Regions from separate parts of the Homo sapiens genome. Here region 2 is linked to region 1. Evidence: fine-mapped QTL for protein levels in blood plasma. A gene starts in region 1. The other region holds a variant in brackets. All regions are shown on one strand. Distances are from middle to middle.

Region 1 (8,323 bases):
CGGGAGCCCGTTTCTCCTTCCTGGAGGAGACAGGACCTGAGCTCCACCCAGGTGAGAAGTCCCCGGCGGCAGAGTAGGAGCTGCAGCCAGGCCTTAAGACGTCCAGGCGCGGGTGCTGCCGCTGCACCATCTGACCGTCTTCCAGACAGCCCCTGAGCTACAGCTGGCTCTGGGCACTGAGGCGTGGGAAGCCCCCTGAAGGAAATGAAAGCTCGCGGAGGGCGAGGTGGTGCAGCTGGGATGCCCAGTTTAATGTCTGAACAAATAAGTGAGTGGCTGAGCCAGGCTGAGGCTGGTTCTATGGGGACCCGGGACTGTCAGGCACAGCCAGTTCTGGGGAGGAGGCCAGGGAGAGGTTGTGGGGCTCAGTGGGGACAGGACTGACGCTGGCTCCTTCCCGAGGCCCTCCTGGCCAGGGGTGGGGGGCTCGAGGGAGCTCACCAGACAAGCATCCCGCTCCCCCTCCAAGTAGCCGGCACACAGCATGTCCTCAGTGATGGGTCCCTGTCCTGCTCCCCGCCAGTACAGATGGCTGCAGACTTCCGAGTCGATGATAGGAACCTTCAGCTTCTGCAGGGTCTGAGGGTGGGGCAAGGGAACTGGGAGGAAAGAGGACAGAATCAGGTTTGGGGGTCTCCCCTCCTCGTTGCCTCCTCAAAGGACTATTCCCCCCCAACACCATTCCTCTCAGCAGCGGTTCTCAAAGGCTAACAGATTAGCTCTACCAGTCTCTCCCAAGATGCCTTCAGAAAATTGAAATTCCAGGTCTCCACCTCTGGCCCTGCTGAATTAGAACATGAATGTGAAACCTAAGACCCTACCTCTTTAATAAATTTTCTTATATCCACAGATGGTTAGAGCCCTTCCTGTCTCAGATACTGCATTACTTCATCCAGCACTGGGACTGCTATAGAAGAAGTGTTCAATAAATGTCCACTCGATGTTGAAAATTACCAGGACCTGAGGGATCCCCACGCCTTGCCTGGAGCTGGTCTACAGACTGTGGTCTGCAGATTGTGGACTGAAAGTCCGCGATTCTAGCTCTTGAAGAAGCCCCTACAGAGATCATGGAGAGGTTGCAACCTCAGAGTTACTGGGATCCCCACACACCTGAGCTAGTGTCATTTCTCTTAATTATTCTGGAATCTGGTTAAATTTTCATCTGTCTTACACTTTGTTATTACTTAGTCTCTAGCTCTCTCTTTCAAACTCTTTCTTCCAGGTCTTCATTGTATCCTCATTTCTGCCTGTATGTTTCTTTTCCTTGGCCCAGTCTCTATCATCCATCTGCCTGTCGATCTGTCATCTACCTTTCTCTTGCTGCTTCCCTGCTTCTTGCTTTATGTAATCTAGTTTGAGTTTTGAGATGATGTTTTCCAAACCTCCAGTGGTGGTTTGAAAATTATATTTTACAATTAAGGTGGCTGCATTTTCTCCCGAGAATTTTGCCCGCAATTGTGGCATGCTACCACCAGGGGGTGCCTGTTCCCACTCTGGAATCAGGCCTCTTTATATTCACCCTGTATTCAGCTTAGTCCCACACACACCCCCTTTCAGCCATTCCTGTATTGATGAATTGAATAGCTTCACGGGTCTGGCTGTTGCCTCAAAACATAGCCAGATACTTTTGAAGTAGAAATGAGGCCAGGCACAGTGGCTCACACCTGTAATCCCGGCACTTTGGGAGGCTGAGGCTGGTGGATTGCTTGAGCCCAACAGTTCAAGACCAGCCCAGCCAACACAGAAAAACCCTGTCTCTACAAAAAATACAAAAATTAGCCAGGTGTGGTAGCACACACCTGTAGTTCCAGCTACCTGGGAGGCTGAGGTGGGAGGATCACTTGAGCCTGGGAGGCAAAGGCTGCAGTGAGTTAGGATCACACCACTGCACTCCAGCCTGGGTGACAGAGTAACACCCTGTCTCAAAAAAAAAAAAAAAAAAAAGAAGAAGAAGAAAGAAAAGAAAAGAGAAATGGCCTGAAATTGCCCACCAAGGTTTCTTCTGGATTGCAGCCCATCTTTCCTTCCACCTCTGTCATGCTGTGCCTCTGGCCTCCACCCTTTGTTGCTCATGGTGTCTGTGTCCCTGAGTGTCTGCCATCCTCTGTCCCCATCTGCCCCCAACCACCTTGGAGAGGAAGAAGCCGCACCTCCATCTTGGATGCTCCCCCAGCCTGAGATCCAGCAGTGGGTGTTTGGAGGGAGGTGGATAGAGGCATCAGGTAGGCAGATGGGCAGGACCCGCTCTGAGAACTGTATGGAGCGCTCGAGACGCACCAGGGCAATGTCTGCACAGGCACCTTCCTTCCAGGAATACACAGGGTGGGGCTCCACCCAGGCAACACCCACCTTCTGGGACCGAGAGCCAGGGTTCCCCAGCTGCCAGGCCCCCAGCAGCACAGAGAACAGGTATGGTTTGTTCAGGTTGCTGGAAGGAAAGGGAAGGGGAGGATCAGCCAGGCCTGGTCTGGGAGGAGGTACCTGGGGGAACAGCATGGGTGTGAAGGCCCCTGAAGGCAGGAGAGGCTTCTAGGTAGAATCGAGGGGCACCAAGATTGAACAGAGGCCCGGAAGCAGAGCCTGTAAAGGGAGCCCAGGGCCTGGGGCACAAAGCCCAGGGCCTTAGAAGATCAAGTGCCCCAGGCCGGCTGTACATACTCCTTGAAACAGTGGGCAGCAGTGATCACCCAGCGGCTGGTGAGCAGAGAACCTGCGCAGTGGTGGGTCCCATTCTTCTGGATGCTCACGATCCAGGGCCACTCGCTGTCAGTGCTGTCCTCGCCGCCCACAACCCGGTTCAGCTGCTGGGGCTTCCCACAGGCTGGGGGAACTGGAGGGTACGGTCAAGTTTTGTTATCTCCAACTTCCTACAACCCACCCCCGGAATCCCAATCCCTAGGCCTGCACCCCAAGCTTTGCCCACAGCCCAAGCTCCGTTCATGTCCCCAAGCTCTACCCACATCCCAAGTTTCACTTGCACTCCAAGCTCCACCCACACCCCAAGCTCCACCCACATCCTAAGCTCCACCCATACCCCAAGCTCCGCCCACCTCCCCGTCCCATCCCTCCCTCCATCCTCACTCTCTGCTGGTCCTCACCTGGCCCTGGCCTTTCCACTCACTCCTTGTCAGCTGCACCTGGTCTCTCCCTCCCCCTCTTTCCTTACCCTGCTTTCCACTCTGTTCACCTTCCTGGCTCTCTCTCTCCTCTGGCCCTGGCATCTCTCAAGCCTTTCTCCTTGCATCCGTGTCTCCTTCCTGCCTCCCTTCCCCTCTAGCTCTTTCCCCCTCTCACCCCAGCCCCTTTCTGACCTGTGCCCAGGGGACGGACACATAGACACTGCCTGCGCGTGGGCCTCCTCCCTTCTCCCTCCCGTCAGAGCTGCCAGCTCCACTCACCAGGTATCCTGGCCGCATTGAGGATGGCTGAGGGCAAGAGAAGGAAACGGTTAGGCCGGTGAGGGGCCCCAGGACACAGTGGTGAGGGGCCCTCAACGCCCAGTGAGGAAGGCCCCCAACACCCAGTAAGAAGGGATCCCAGTGCCCAGTGAGGTGGAGGTCCCAGCACCCAGTGAGGAGGGTCCCTCAGCGCCCAGTGAGGAGGGGTCCCAGCACCCCCTGAGGAGGGTCCCTCAGCGCCCAGTGAGGAGGGGTCCCAGTACCCAGTGAGGAGGGTCCCTCAGCGCCCAGCGAGAAGCCCCCAGCACCCAGTGAGAAGGGGTCCAGTGCCCAGTGGGAAGGGGTCCCAGCACCCAGTGAGGAGGGGTCCCCAGCGCCCAGTGAGGAGGGCTCCCCAGCGCCTAGTGAGGAGGGTTCCCCAGCGCCCAGTGAGGAGGGGTCCCCAGCGCCCAGTGAGGAGGGCTCCCCAGCGCCCAGTGAGGAGGGGTCCCCAGCGCCCAGTGACGAGGGGGTCCCAGCGCTCAGTGAGGAGGGGGTCCCAGCGCCCAGTGAGGAGGGGTCCCAGCGCCCAGTGAGCAGGCGTCCCAGCGCCCAGTGAGGAGGGGGTCCCCTTGAGTACCTGGTGGTGAGGAACCTCTAGCCCTCCAGTGCCCAGGGAGACTCTCAAGTCTCTCAACCCCAGGGCCCCTACCGGCGGGGCATTTCCTGGGGCCTGGCCAGGCCCTGGCTGCACAGCTGTGACCCTGCCCTCCCGCAGCTTCCCGTCCAGCCTGCCTTCCGGGGACCAGGACCGGCTCCTCGAGGGAGGCACAGACCTGAGCCCCTCGGCTCTGGACGCTGCTGCCGCTGGTGTGCCCTCCCCTGACCTCCTGCGGCAGGAACAACACAAAACGGTGCTTCCCCAGAGGCAAGCAGCGGAGGACGAGGAGATGGGAGAACACGGAGGCGAGAGGGAGCAGGCGATGGCGACGCCGACGGTAACTGGAGACCGAGGCGCGCTGCGTACTTGCTGCGTTTTCTGTTTCATCCTCACAGCCGTAGAAGAAACCGAGGCACAGAGCAGTTAAGGAGCAAGAGATAAACAGAGCAGAAGCGGAAAGGAGATGAGAGAGGCAAGGCCAGGAGGGAGAGAGGGAGGGAGGGAAGGAGGGAAGGAGGGTGGAGGTGAGAGGGAGGAGGGAGGAGCAGCCTCCGGACGTACCTGTCGACGCCAGCAGCAGCAGGGAGGTGAAGGTGCCGAGACAGCCCCCACCCAGGGCTGGGGGCGCTCCAGAAACCACCATGGCTGGTGGGGCGGGGGAGCAGGCAGCAGGCTCGAGAGACCCAGGGCGATGCGGGTCAGGGTGTGTAGGTTCCCTGCAGGTCGCCCCAGGTTTTATCCTGGGAGGCGGAATGCCGTCAGACCAGTCCCCAGGTGGCTCCCGCGGCCACCCCGGCTGTGGGTCCTGGGCAGAGGGCGGGGCTGCGGGGAGGAAGCCAGCCGCTACAGGGCTCTGGGGGGGCTCTAGCTGAGACCCCAGGATGTGGCCTCTGGAAGGGCAGGGGAGGGGGCTTGGGCCCAGAGGTCCCTGACATTAATTGTCCAGGGGCAGAGAAAGGTGCCAGGGCACTGAAAGGAAGGGGTTCCGGGCTGGGGAGGGCCTGGGTTTGGAGAGGCTGAAGTCTGGGGTACTGGGTGTTGGGGGTGGTCCTAGGGCCTTAGGGATCAAGGGGGTGCCCAAAGCTCAGTAACGGCTCCCACCTGCAGGGCCCCAGGCCCCTGTGACTCAGCCCAGAGACCTGGCGCAACCCGGGCTTGGGAATCCCGTTAACCCACTTCCCGAAAGCTGTGAATCAGGTGAGTGGCGACCTTGGTGGCCTCCTGGTGGCCGCCCTCCTGTCGTTCCTGGAGGCGGGGCTCTGCCCTGCGGTTCAGACACCTGACAACTCACCTCACCTGGACTCCTGGGAAGGGGAGGAGCCCATGGGCACCAGGGCTCGGCCAAGCAGGGGGGTTGAGAGAAGAGGGGCCCCGGGAAGGGCTGGGACTCCCAGGATTCAAAGAGCTGCTGGGCTGGGCTGTGGGGGGCCGGGTCCTGGGCTGGGAGTGGATTCTCGGTGCTTCCCCCCAGCGGCTGCCACAGTGGCAACCCGGGGCTGAATCCTGTGAGACCTTCCCTGACTCAGTGCCCTGCAGCGCCCCACACTTGGGACACTCCCACCCAAGCAGGGCAGGCTTCCTCCTCTACAAAGAGGCAGGAGCCTGCGCCCCTTCACTCATTCGATCAACAAGCCTCCAGCAGGGCCCTTGCTACCGCCGGGGGTGAATTAAAAACAACCATAGTGTCTGGGTGGGGTGGCTTATTCCTGTAATCCCAGCACTTTGGGAGGCCAAGACGGACAGATCATGAGGTCAGGAGTTCAATACCAGTCTGGCCAACATAGTAAAACCCCGTCTCTACTAAAAATACAAAAAAAAAAAAATTAGCCAGGCATGGTGGCAGGCGCCCTTAGTCCCATCTACTTGGGAGGCTGAGGCAGGAGAATCGCTTGAACCTGGGAGGCGGAGGTTGCAGTGAGCTGAGATCACGCCACTGCACTCCAGCCTGGGCGACAGAGCGAGACTCTGTTTCAAAAAAAAAAAAAAAAAACCATAGTAGTGAATATGTATGTAATAAATATATTTATACAAATATAAATATAGTATTTATATAATAGAGCAAACATTTAGGAGTGCCATGCATTGCCTCCTAATCCTCAAATGTCTTTATTATTCCCACTCTGCAGATAAGGAAACTGAGGCAGCTTAGGGCGGTTAAGTGACTTGCCCGAGATTGCTGGGTGAGTGGTGGAGCCGGACCTGCACCCCAACACTGGGGGTGGCTGCTGGGACTGCCCTCATGGAGGCTTCGGGAGCCTGGAGGAGGTGCCTCACCCTGCCTGGGGTGAGCCCTAACTTGCTCCCTGCAGAGTCAGGGTGGCGTGGGTCAGGGGCTTAGCAGACCACCATGGCTGCTTCAGGGACTCCATGGCTCTGAGCAGGACGGGTTTTGCCCTGGGGGTGGACTCTGTGCTGCCCACCTCCTCAGTCTGTTAAGGGTTAGGGTGGCAGCAGGACGACTGGCACTTTCTCGTGGCAGAGAGGCCATGCCCTGCTCCACCGAGAGACAAGTCAAACAGCAGGGCCCTGGGGAGCCCCAGAGGATGCATTATTCTCTGTCCCAGGACTCAGAGGGGGTTTGGGGGAACTGCAGGAAAAGGCCACGCAGAGTGGCCAAGGAGGGGCAGTGTCTCTGAGCAGCAGCAGCACTGCAGCAGAAATTTCTGCTGGGCTCCCCCAACCCTACTCACTGTCCCCCGCTCAGCTCTGCACCCAGGGCGTCCAGGGCCCTCCTGCGCCCCACCCCACTGCCTTCTGGAATAAGGTGGGTGGCCTCTCCAGCTCACCCAGCAAACATATATTGAGTACCTGCTGTATGTCAGGCCCTGGTGGGCACCAGGACACATGTGATGAATAAGACGCAGGTCCTGTGCTCAGGAAGCACATGACCTCCTAGGGGTGGGAGGCAGATGACGGATGACAGGGAGGTGTCCGGGAGGTGGGCACAGAACCATGGGACCAGGCGGTGGCTTGGACCCTAGAGGGCCACTGTGAAGCTGGGTGCTGGGGAAACAGTGTGGGCAGGGGGGCTCCCTGTGGACCCCCAGGATCATATTCAGTGCCTGCTGCACCCTGGGGCTCAGCGAGTGTTTGTTGAATGTATAAATGAGTGTGGAAGAAGCAAGTCTGCAAGTGGCTGGGGACCGACCACTCCAGCCTCCCTCTCTGCCTCCCGCCCAGGTTTCCTCTCCATTCCAGCTTTTCTGCCTTTCTGAAGAGCCAGCTCACTGCCCTGGATACCCAAGGGTAGCCATGGGCCCTGCCCAAGATGCCGCTATCCCTGAGACAGGGTGGCCAGGAAGAGAGCCCCGAGGAGAAGGACCTGGTAGGAGCAGGGGGAAGCCCTGAGGAGCTGGGTGAAGATTTCCTGGCACAAGTCCTGGGGAAGGGCCCCAGACAGCAGTTCCTCAATTCCCAGGGTATAGAGGGTGGAGTCTCTGAAAGGCCACGGGGTGGAGACCCTGGCATGATTCAACATTCACTCAACAAAATATTTATTGAGCGCCTGCCAATGCTAGACCCACATGCTGGCCAGCATCCCTGCCTGTGCAAGCTCTGGATGAGCTGTGTGCCCCTGCCACCCACACCCCCACTCCCTGCCAGCCTGGCCTCAGGGCCTCTGATCCATGTGCACTGGAGTGGTGATGACTGACAGGGCCACTGGGGCATTTCCATGTTAACAGCAGCTGCCACTGGCAAAAGAAGTGACTCGCCAATGGTGGCATCTCAGATGTGGGCCCAGGAGTCTGGGGAGCTACTTTGAACAGGGCTATCCATTCATTGTCCCACCAAAGGCTATGGAGCCCACCCACCATGTGCTGGAGTAGTCAAGGGAAATAAGACACTCTCCTTGTCCTTGTTAACTCAATCAACAAGCATTTGCAGAGCACCGCCTGTATGCCGGCGCTGTCCGAAGTGCTGAAGATACAGCAATGAGCAAACCAAAAGCCATGGACATCGGATGAAACAGAGAATTGTAAACAATAAGTACATCATTTAGCTCTATGGAAAACAGGATAGAGATTTCTCAAAGAACTAAAACTAGAACTACCATTCAACCAGCAATCCCACCACTGGGCATCCACCCAAAGGAAAAGAAGTCATTTAATCAAAGAGACACCTGCACTCGTGTGTTCATCGCAGCAACACTGTTCACAACAGCAAAGCCATGAAATCAACCTAAGTGTCCATCAACAGATGATGGATAAAGAAAATGTGGTGAATATATACACAGTGGGATACTACGAAGCCATAAAAAAGAACACAAAACCATGTCTTTTGCAGC
Region 2 (8,323 bases), 57 kb after region 1:
CTACAGCGCATCACCACATCCAGCTAATTTTCTCTTGTTCCTCTTTTCTTTTTTTCTGTAGAGAAAGAGTCTCACTATGTTGCCTAGGCTGATCTCAAACTCCTGGGCTCAAACGATGCTCCTGTCTCAGCCTCCCAAAGTGCTGGGATTACAAGCAAGAGTCACTGTACCCGGCCAACATGGATGAACTTTGAAAGTGCTATGCTAAGGCTAGGCGAAAGAAGTCAGTCACAAGAGACCACATATTTGTTGCATGATTTCATTTATATGAAATATGCAGAATACGCAAATCTATAAAGACAGAAAATAGATCATATTACTTAGGGCTGGGGTGATTAGCAAATTGGAGGGTGGTGGCTAAAGGTTTCTTCTTGGAGTGATGAAAGGTTTTAAAACTGACTATGGTGCTGTTTGCACAACTCTCTGACTATACTACATATCATTTAATTGTACACTTTAAATGGGAGAAATGCATGGTATGTGAATTATATTTCAATAAAGATCTTACCAAAAAATAGTAAGCTGATTGTGTTAACATAGTTTTATGAAAAAGTACAATATTTTCCCAAAGAAATTTAGTGAGACGAGTGACATAGTTATACATTTTTGCAAATATCTTTGTTGCGGGCTTAAAAGAAGACTACTGGCTCTCATACCTGCTTCTACATTCAATGTGTTACATCACACGTCATGCAGACTTTGTAATACTATGTAATATTTCTGCTTTTTTTTTTTTAGACACAGTCTCACTCTGTCGCCCAGGCTGGAGTGCAGTGGCGCCGTCTCGGCTCACTGCAACCTCCGCCTCCCGGGTTCAAGTTATTCTCCTGCCTCAGCCTCCCGAGTAGCTGGGATTACAGGCGCCCAGTACCACGCCCGACTAATGTTCGTATTTTTAGTAGAAACGGGGTTTCACCATGTTGGCCACGCTGTTCTCGAACTCCTGACCTCAGGTGATCCACCCGCCTCGGCCTCCCAAAGTGCTGGGATTACAGGCGTGAGCCACCGCGCCCGGCCCAGGTATTTTTTTGTCGTTGTTGGCTTTCTGATGTAAGAAACAACTGTCCCTTCTCCCCCGTTGACTTATTTCCTTCAGTTTGGACTCATATCGTAGTCAAGGTTATAATCCGTTGCTATCGCTGTTTATTTGAATCTCACACTGGTTCCGCTCTGGGGTAGGGTCACTGGGGGCGTCAATGAGATGCATGAGAATCGCCTTCCCACGGGGTCAGGAAACTGACAGGCCCAAGAGTGCATCTCAGCAAACGCTCCGTTTCCTGCGGGCAGCCTCAGATACTGGGGACCGTCCTGGGGTCTCAATTAAGCGCCCCCTACCCCAGCCCCTTTACGCCAAGAGCGTCCTGTTCAGCTCCCCCATCCTAGCTCCGCCCCTGGACGCCGCCGTCCAATCTCGGGATGGCCCCGCCTTTTCCGTGAGTTACGTCCCCGCCCCCATGCGCTGACAGGCCAGGCCTGCGGCTCGGCGCCGCGCAGGGAAGACCCGGAGCAGCGGTTTACCTAAGGAACGGGCCGCGCGGTCTTGCTGCGCATGCTCTGAAGTAGCGCGCCTGAGCGTTCCGCAAGGCCGGCTCCCCGGCGGGGTCGCGCGCGCGGTCACGGGGCTCGCTCCCGAGGGGCAGGTCGGGGCTGGGAGCTGGTGCCCGGGTCGGGGTGGCGGCGGCGGCCTGGGTCGCGGGGTCGACGCTCGCTGCTGCAGCGGCAGAGGCTGAAGGATCCGCCGCGGCGCTGTCGCGGGAGAGGGAGGGCCCCGCTGCCGTCGGTGAGGACAGGCCCCTGCGGGCGGGGAATGTCCCGCGTCCCCGGCGTGGACGCGCCCGCAGCCCGGCTCTCCCGGGGGTCCCGAGGGTTGCGGGTGCTGGGGAGGGGTCTGCGTCCCGGCGCTCAGGCCGCCTCCTGTGGGGTCTCCCGCGATTCCCTCCTTGCTCCTCGCCCCTCCATCCCCACCCCCCCGTCCCCTGGCCTAAGCCCGACACCCCCACATCAAGGATCCCCGCACTCGTCCGCCGTTTCCTGGCGGTGTCTGCCCCGCCCAGCGCTGCCTTCCTGGACCCGCAGCATCAGCCCCGTCCCACGGTTGCAGCTCGGGCGGTCCCAGTGACCTTGCACTTTTGCGGGTCGGGACGCACCCCGCTCCCGCTTCTGACCCTATAGATCTCCGGTGACGGCTTTCGAACTTTGTTGACCCACAGCCGACACTGAGAAATGCCTTTTACGCGTGTACTCTGTGCCTGTGGGTCTGGATGACTGAAGCACAAGTTTAAAGGGAGACGCTTGTTTAAGCTCACATGACGCAGCTGGATCTGTTCGGATTAAATTCCGTTCCATTCTCTTCCACCCCGTTCCAAAAGGCTGCTGCTAACCCATGGAGCCTGCACATAACGGGTCTGACGTAGTTGAAACCCTCGCTCTAAACCCTGCCTGTTGTTCCTTTATTCCTTGTACTGGAAGCTGAACTCCCATAGTCAGATAATCATGTGCAAACTCCAATTCCAACGAAATGGCTTATTTTTATTTGCATATTTCTGCTTTCCAAGGGCCAATATGATTTCCAGGGCTTGATCTAGATTTTCTCGTGTGATTATATCATGTTTCTCTTGTTCCTTTCCCAAGTGCTACTGGCGGGACGTGTGGAAGGAACAAGGCTGAGGTTGGGGCTAGATTGCGGAGTGTTTATGACGCCCAGCTGATGATGCACTAAGGCTGGAGATGGAGATGATTTAATTGGGGAGAGACATGCTGAAAGTTAAGCTTTAGGAAGAGTGACCTGTCAGCACCCTATGTGGAGAATTGGAGTGGCTGCTTGCCAAAGCTGGCAAGATCGTTCAGAGGCTTTGGCTTGGGCTAAAGAGGTCGTGGTAAGGGATCATGTCCTGAGTTGGTGGGAGTGGGAAGGAGAGGGAAGATGGGTATATCAGGCATAGAGGGAGAGAGATTTGAGGATGCATTAGGCTGTGGGAAGGAGTAAATAAACTTATATTATGATGGAGGGTGACTGGGGAATACCGGGCTGGGGGGGTCTCATTGGCCAAGCTCTCCCTTTCTGTGCGCTCTAATTTCTAAGTTGCTTTGGAGCTGTGGCTCTTGGGCAATTCTGCACCCCAGGGAACGTTCTGCAGTGTTGGTGGTCACAACGTGTGGTAGGGCATGACAGTGGGATCTGGCAGGTAGAGACCGGGGTTGCTGCTGAACACCCCACGCTGAACAGGACAGCCTCCCACAGCAGAATCATCCGGCCCAAAATGCCAACGGTGCTGAGATTGTGAAGTTCATTTTTAGAGTAAATTTTAATTATCTGGGCATCTCTGCCACCTTCAACCTCTTCAGGAGGAATGTCTGTGTGCACCCACTGAGCCTGTGATGTCACCATAGTGGTTCATGTCTGAGGCAAGTGCACCTCCAACGCTCATGGTTCAGTTGCGGGTAGGTGGGAGGTGGGTAGACACTGGAGTCATCCAGGAGCTTTAAAAAAAAATTTTTTTAGTAGAAATGGTGGGGGCGAGGGGCAGGTCTCACTATGTTGCCTAGGCTGGTCTCGAACTCCTGGGCTCAAACAATTCTCTCACCTGAGCCTCCCAAACTGCTGAGATGACAGGTGTGAGCCACCGTGCCACCGGCCCATTCAGAAGCTTTTTAAACAGAGGGCCTTCCCTCCTCCCGCTCCTATCACTCAGGACCCCTACTGCACCTGGATGCTGAACACCTTGTTCTTGTCTAATGGTCGACAGTTCATGGAATAATTTCACCTGCAGTATTTCATTTGCCACTTTACTTTCTTCACAGGTGAAACCAGCCCAGAGAAGTTACGGGATTTGCCCCCGGGGCTCCTGCCCAGCAAGCCAGCGCCGTGACCCAGGTGTGGGGGATGATGGTGACGCTTCTCACTCACGTGTGAAGGTAATTCTGTGGCTCCATCAGCTGCCGACAGAGCCGCCTGGTTTTCGAGCCTTACTGATTAGAGTTTGGACCCCTTGGTGTCTGAGAGACACCTGACAGTTGCTAACATGTGACCCTTAGGTCTACGCTGAGCCCTTGTGGTCACCAGCAGGACCGCAGCGTCCCAGTAGGCCATCTGGCATTGCACTCAAATTGCTCCGCACCCTCAATTCTGGGAGAAGGGGAGAGAGGACAGGAGAGTGATGCACCATGAACTGAGACTTTGGAGCTTTCCATGCAAATCTGCCGGCCTGTGCTCCATTCACTTAAGAAATCTGTACTGAGTGCAGCCAGGCATGGTGGTTCACGTCTGTAATCCCAGCACTTTGGGAGGCTGAGGTGGGCAGATCACCAGAGGTCAGGAGTTTGAGACCAGCCTGGCTAACATGGTGAAACCCTGTCTATACTAAAAATACAAAAAATTTAGCTGGGCGTGGTGGCGCACACCTGTAATCCCAGCTACTCAGGAGCCTGAGGAGCAGAATCGCTTGAACCTGGTTCAAGGATTCAGCGGAGGTTGCAGTGAGACAGGATCGAGCCACTGCACTCCAGCCTGGGCGACAGAGTGAGACTCTGTCTCAAAAAAAAAAAAAAAAAAAGAAATTTGTACTGAATGAAGATTGAACATTACAAAAGAAACACATTAGGGCCCCTGTATCTACTGTAAAACAATGGGTATCTACTGTAAAAAAAAAAAGCACTTAAACTAGAGTAACAAAAGTTTCTAATTTTTATTAAATGAGATATTTATTGAATTTATTAAATAATATAAATGTATTAAAATATACTCATTTTTATTACATGCACTGAAATTTTTTTTTTTTTTCCTGAGACAGTCTCATTTTGTTGCCTAGGCTGGAGTGCATTGGTGTGATCTTGGCTCACTGCAACCTCCATCTCCCCGGTAGGTTCAGTGAGTTCTGCCTCAGCCTCCTGAGCAGCTGGGATTACAGGCATGCACCACG[A/C]CCGACTAATTTTTTTGTATTTTTAGTAGAGACAGGGTTTTACCGTGTTGGCCAGGCGGCAAACTGGGATTACAGGCCTGTGCTACCAAGCCCAGCTAATTGTTGTATTTTTAGTAGAGACAGGGTTTCACCATGTTGGCCAGGCCGGTCTCAAACTCCTGAGCTCCACCTTACTGGCTAACGGTAAGTAAAATCTTTAACATGTGTTTGCTTTATATGAGTATAAAAGAATTGTATTTCCTTTGTTTTGGTCTAGGGCACTGTTTTTGAAACTGCTTAGTCATTGGTCCTAAAATCATTAGGTTCCAGTCAGCAATTTTTAAAATTACATGGGCTGGTCGCAGTGGTTCACGCCTGTAATCCCAGCACTTTGAGAGGCCAAGGTGGGCGGATCACGGGAGGCAGAGGCACCAGAATGGCTTGAGCCTGGGAATCGGAGGTTGCAGTTAGCTGAGATCTAGCCACTGCTCCCCAGCCTGGGAGACAGAGCAAGACTCTGTGTCGAGAGAAAAAAAAAAAAAAGAGAGAATCCAAAGAAGAATCTACAAGATTCTAGATCAGGAATATTGAAATGAATGTGCAAATGGAGGCAAAACTGGCCTCTTCTACAGTGGCCAAGGAAACATATTTTTGATTATAAGGCTGATTTCATCATATTTGGCCTGATTATGTAGTGCAGCAATAGTACTGATTCACCAGATAAGCCTACCTGAGTTTGCCTGCCTGGAAGTCTCCATAAGGAAACTTAGACTTTTTAAAGTCTGTTGTTTTGGCCAGGTGCCGTGGCTCACACCTGTAATCCCAGCATTTTGGGAGGCAAAGACGGGCTGATCACTTGAGGTCAGAAGTTCGAGACCAGCCTGGCCAACATGATGAAACCTCATCTCTACTAAAAACAAAAGTTAGCTGGGCGTGTTGGTGCGTGCCTGTAATCCTAGCTACTCAGGAAGCTGAGTCAGGATAATTAACCTAGGAGGCAGAAGTTGCAGTGAGCTGAGATCATGCCACTGTACTCCAGCCTGGGCAACAGAGTGGGACTCCATCTCAAAACAAAAATACAGGCCGGGTGTGGTGGCTCACGCCTGTAATCCCAGCACTTTGGGAAGCTGAGGCAGGCGGATCACGAAGTCAGGAGATAGAGACCATCCTGGCTAACATGGTGAAACCCCGTCTCTACTAACAAAATACAAAAAATTATCCAGGCCTGGTGGCAGGTGCCTGTAGTCTCAGCTACTCTGGAGGCTGAGGCCGGAGAATGGCGTGAACCCAGGAGACAGAGCTTGCAGAGAGCCGAGATCGCACCACTGCACTCCAGCCTGGGTGACAGAGCGAGACTCCATCTCAAAAAAACAAAACAAAACAAAAAATAAAAAAAAGAAAAAAGAAATTTAAAAATTCGTTGTTTGATATCCTGAGACACAGAAGGCAAGTCCAGGATGCTTTCTCCATCAGATTTTACCTGTAGTACTTAAAATTTGGGCAAATTCCTCTCTTCTTGAGGTTCCCCAAAATACCCCTAAGGTTCCTGAAACTTGTTAAATTGCTAATACTTTCAAAAACGAGGAAATCGGCCAGGCATGGTGGCTCACTCCTGTAATCCCAGCTCTTTGGGAGGCCGAGGGGGGTGGATCATGAGGTCAGGAGTTCGAGATTAGCCTGGACAACATGGTGAAACCCCATCTCTAGTAAAAAAAAAAAAAAAAATAACAAAAATTAGCCAGGCGTGGTAGCGCGCACCTGTAATCCCAGCTACTTGGGAGGCTGAGGCAGGAGAATCGCTTGAAACCAGAAGGCAGAAGTTGCAGTGAGCCGAGATCATGCCACTGCACTCCAGCCCAGGTGAAAGAGCGAAACTCTGTCTCAAAAATAAAAAAAAGTAAAAAAAATTTTTAAAAAGCCATGACTTTCCCAATAATACAAAGTAAGCTTGTTAATAATTTTTTTTTTTTTTTTGAGATGGAGTTTTGCTCTTGTCACCCAGGCTGGAGTGCAATGGTGGGATCTCTGCTCACTGCAACTTCCACCTCCCGGGTACAAGCGATTCTCCTGCCTCAGCCTCCCGAGTAGCTGGGATTACAGGCGCCCACCACGACGCCCAGCTAATTTTGTATTTTTAGTAGAGACGGGGTTTTGCCATGTTGGTCAGGCTGGTTTCGAACTCCTGACCTCAGGTGATCCGCCCATCTCAGCCTCCCAAAGTGCTGGGATTACAGGTGTGAGCCACCATGCCCGGCCGTTAATGATTTTCTGTGACATTAATGAGGAAACCTGTATGACATTAAAGAGTAAATGAGATGATGTAGATAAAATACTTCAGGTATTTTAGTGCCCAGCACAAAGCAAACCTCAGGTGTTGCTTAGGTTCGTCGCTTAGCTGCAGTCTTCTGTTTCCCAAGGTCATCTATTCTAGTGTTTGTCAAAGTCTAGTTCACAGTCTATCAGTATCAGGAGGATTTGTGAAAAATCTAGATTCTTGTTCCTCCCTCTTCCTTTGGCCTCCCTCTTCCCCTCCCCCGATCCTCTCCCCACCCCCCAAAATCTGGAGTCTTTTCTTCCCCCTCGAGATGGAGTCTCACTGTTGCCCAGGCTGGAGTACAGTGGCACGATCTTGGCTCACTGTGCAACCTCCACTTCCTGGGTTCAAGCAATTCTCCCTGCCTCAGCCTCCTGAGTAGCTGGGATTACAGGCGCCCGCCACCATGCCCAGGTAATTTTTGTATTTTTTGGAAGAGATGGGGTTTTGCCATGTTGGCCGGGCTTGTCTTGAACTCCTGACCTCAAGTGATCCACCCACCTCGGCCTCCCAAAGTGCTGGAATTAGAGGTATGTGCCACTGTGCCTGGCCTTGGATTCCTTTTTTTTTTTTTTTTTTTTGAGACAGTGTCGCTCTGTCGCCCAGGCTGGAGTGCAGTGGGGCAATCTCGGCTCACTGCAAGCTCCGCCTCCCAGGCTCACACCATTCTCCTGCCTCAGCCTCCCGAGTAGCTGGGACTACAGGCGGCCGCCACCGCGCCCAGCTAATTTTTTGTATTTTTAGTAGAGACGGGGTTTCACCGTGTTAGCCAGGATGGTCTCGATCTCCTGACCTCGTGATCCGCCTGCCTTGGCCTTCTAAAGTGCTGGGATTACAGGCGTGAGCCACCGCGCCAGGCTTTTTTTTTTTTGAGAGGGAGTTTTGCTCTTGTTGCCCAGGCTGGAGTGCAATGGCAGGATCTTGGCTCACTGCAACCTCCACCTCCCGGTTTCGAGTGACTCTTCTGCCTCAGCCTCCTGAATAGCTGGGATTACAGGCATGCACCAACATGACCATCTAATTTTTGTATTTTCAGTAGAGACGGGGTTTCTCCATTTTAGTCAGGCTGGTCTCAAACTCCCGACCTCAGGTGATCCGCCTGCCTCGGCCT

Which allele goes with the higher level. Positions count from the first base shown, and alleles are read on the strand shown. Strength reflects both the effect of a copy and how common the allele is.
For the plasma level of the protein whose gene starts at base 4,747 in region 1, allele A in region 2 goes with a lower level than allele C (moderate association).

Evidence for each region. A credible set is the group of variants that fine-mapping cannot tell apart. PIP is the posterior inclusion probability: the model's chance that the variant is causal. Protein levels are from antibody-based Olink assays in UK Biobank. Linkage for the fine-mapping came from a reference panel and not from the study's own genotypes, which makes the PIPs less certain.
Region 2: its variant is the best candidate, but not a certain one, in a credible set for the plasma level of the PRSS22 protein (UK Biobank, PIP 0.80).

Annotation. Positions count from the first base shown.
Region 1 is chr16:2,853,424-2,861,746 of GRCh38, forward strand. It overlaps PRSS22 (serine protease 22), which reads right to left and starts at 4,747. Exons shown (of 6, transcript NM_022119.4): 1 at 4,600-4,747; 2 at 3,399-3,425; 3 at 2,659-2,830; 4 at 2,151-2,428; 5 at 442-599. The coding sequence starts at 4,681. RefSeq lists enhancers at 4,132-4,732, 4,733-5,333, 5,334-5,933.
Region 2 is chr16:2,910,375-2,918,697 of GRCh38, forward strand. FLYWCH1 (FLYWCH-type zinc finger 1) reads left to right here and starts at 1,557. Exons shown (of 10, transcript NM_001308068.2): 1 at 1,557-1,780; 2 at 3,802-3,915. RefSeq lists silencers at 1,308-1,367, 1,418-1,727, 1,748-1,897, 1,928-2,027, 2,001-2,190. The variant A/C (reference allele first, on the strand shown) is at 4,920.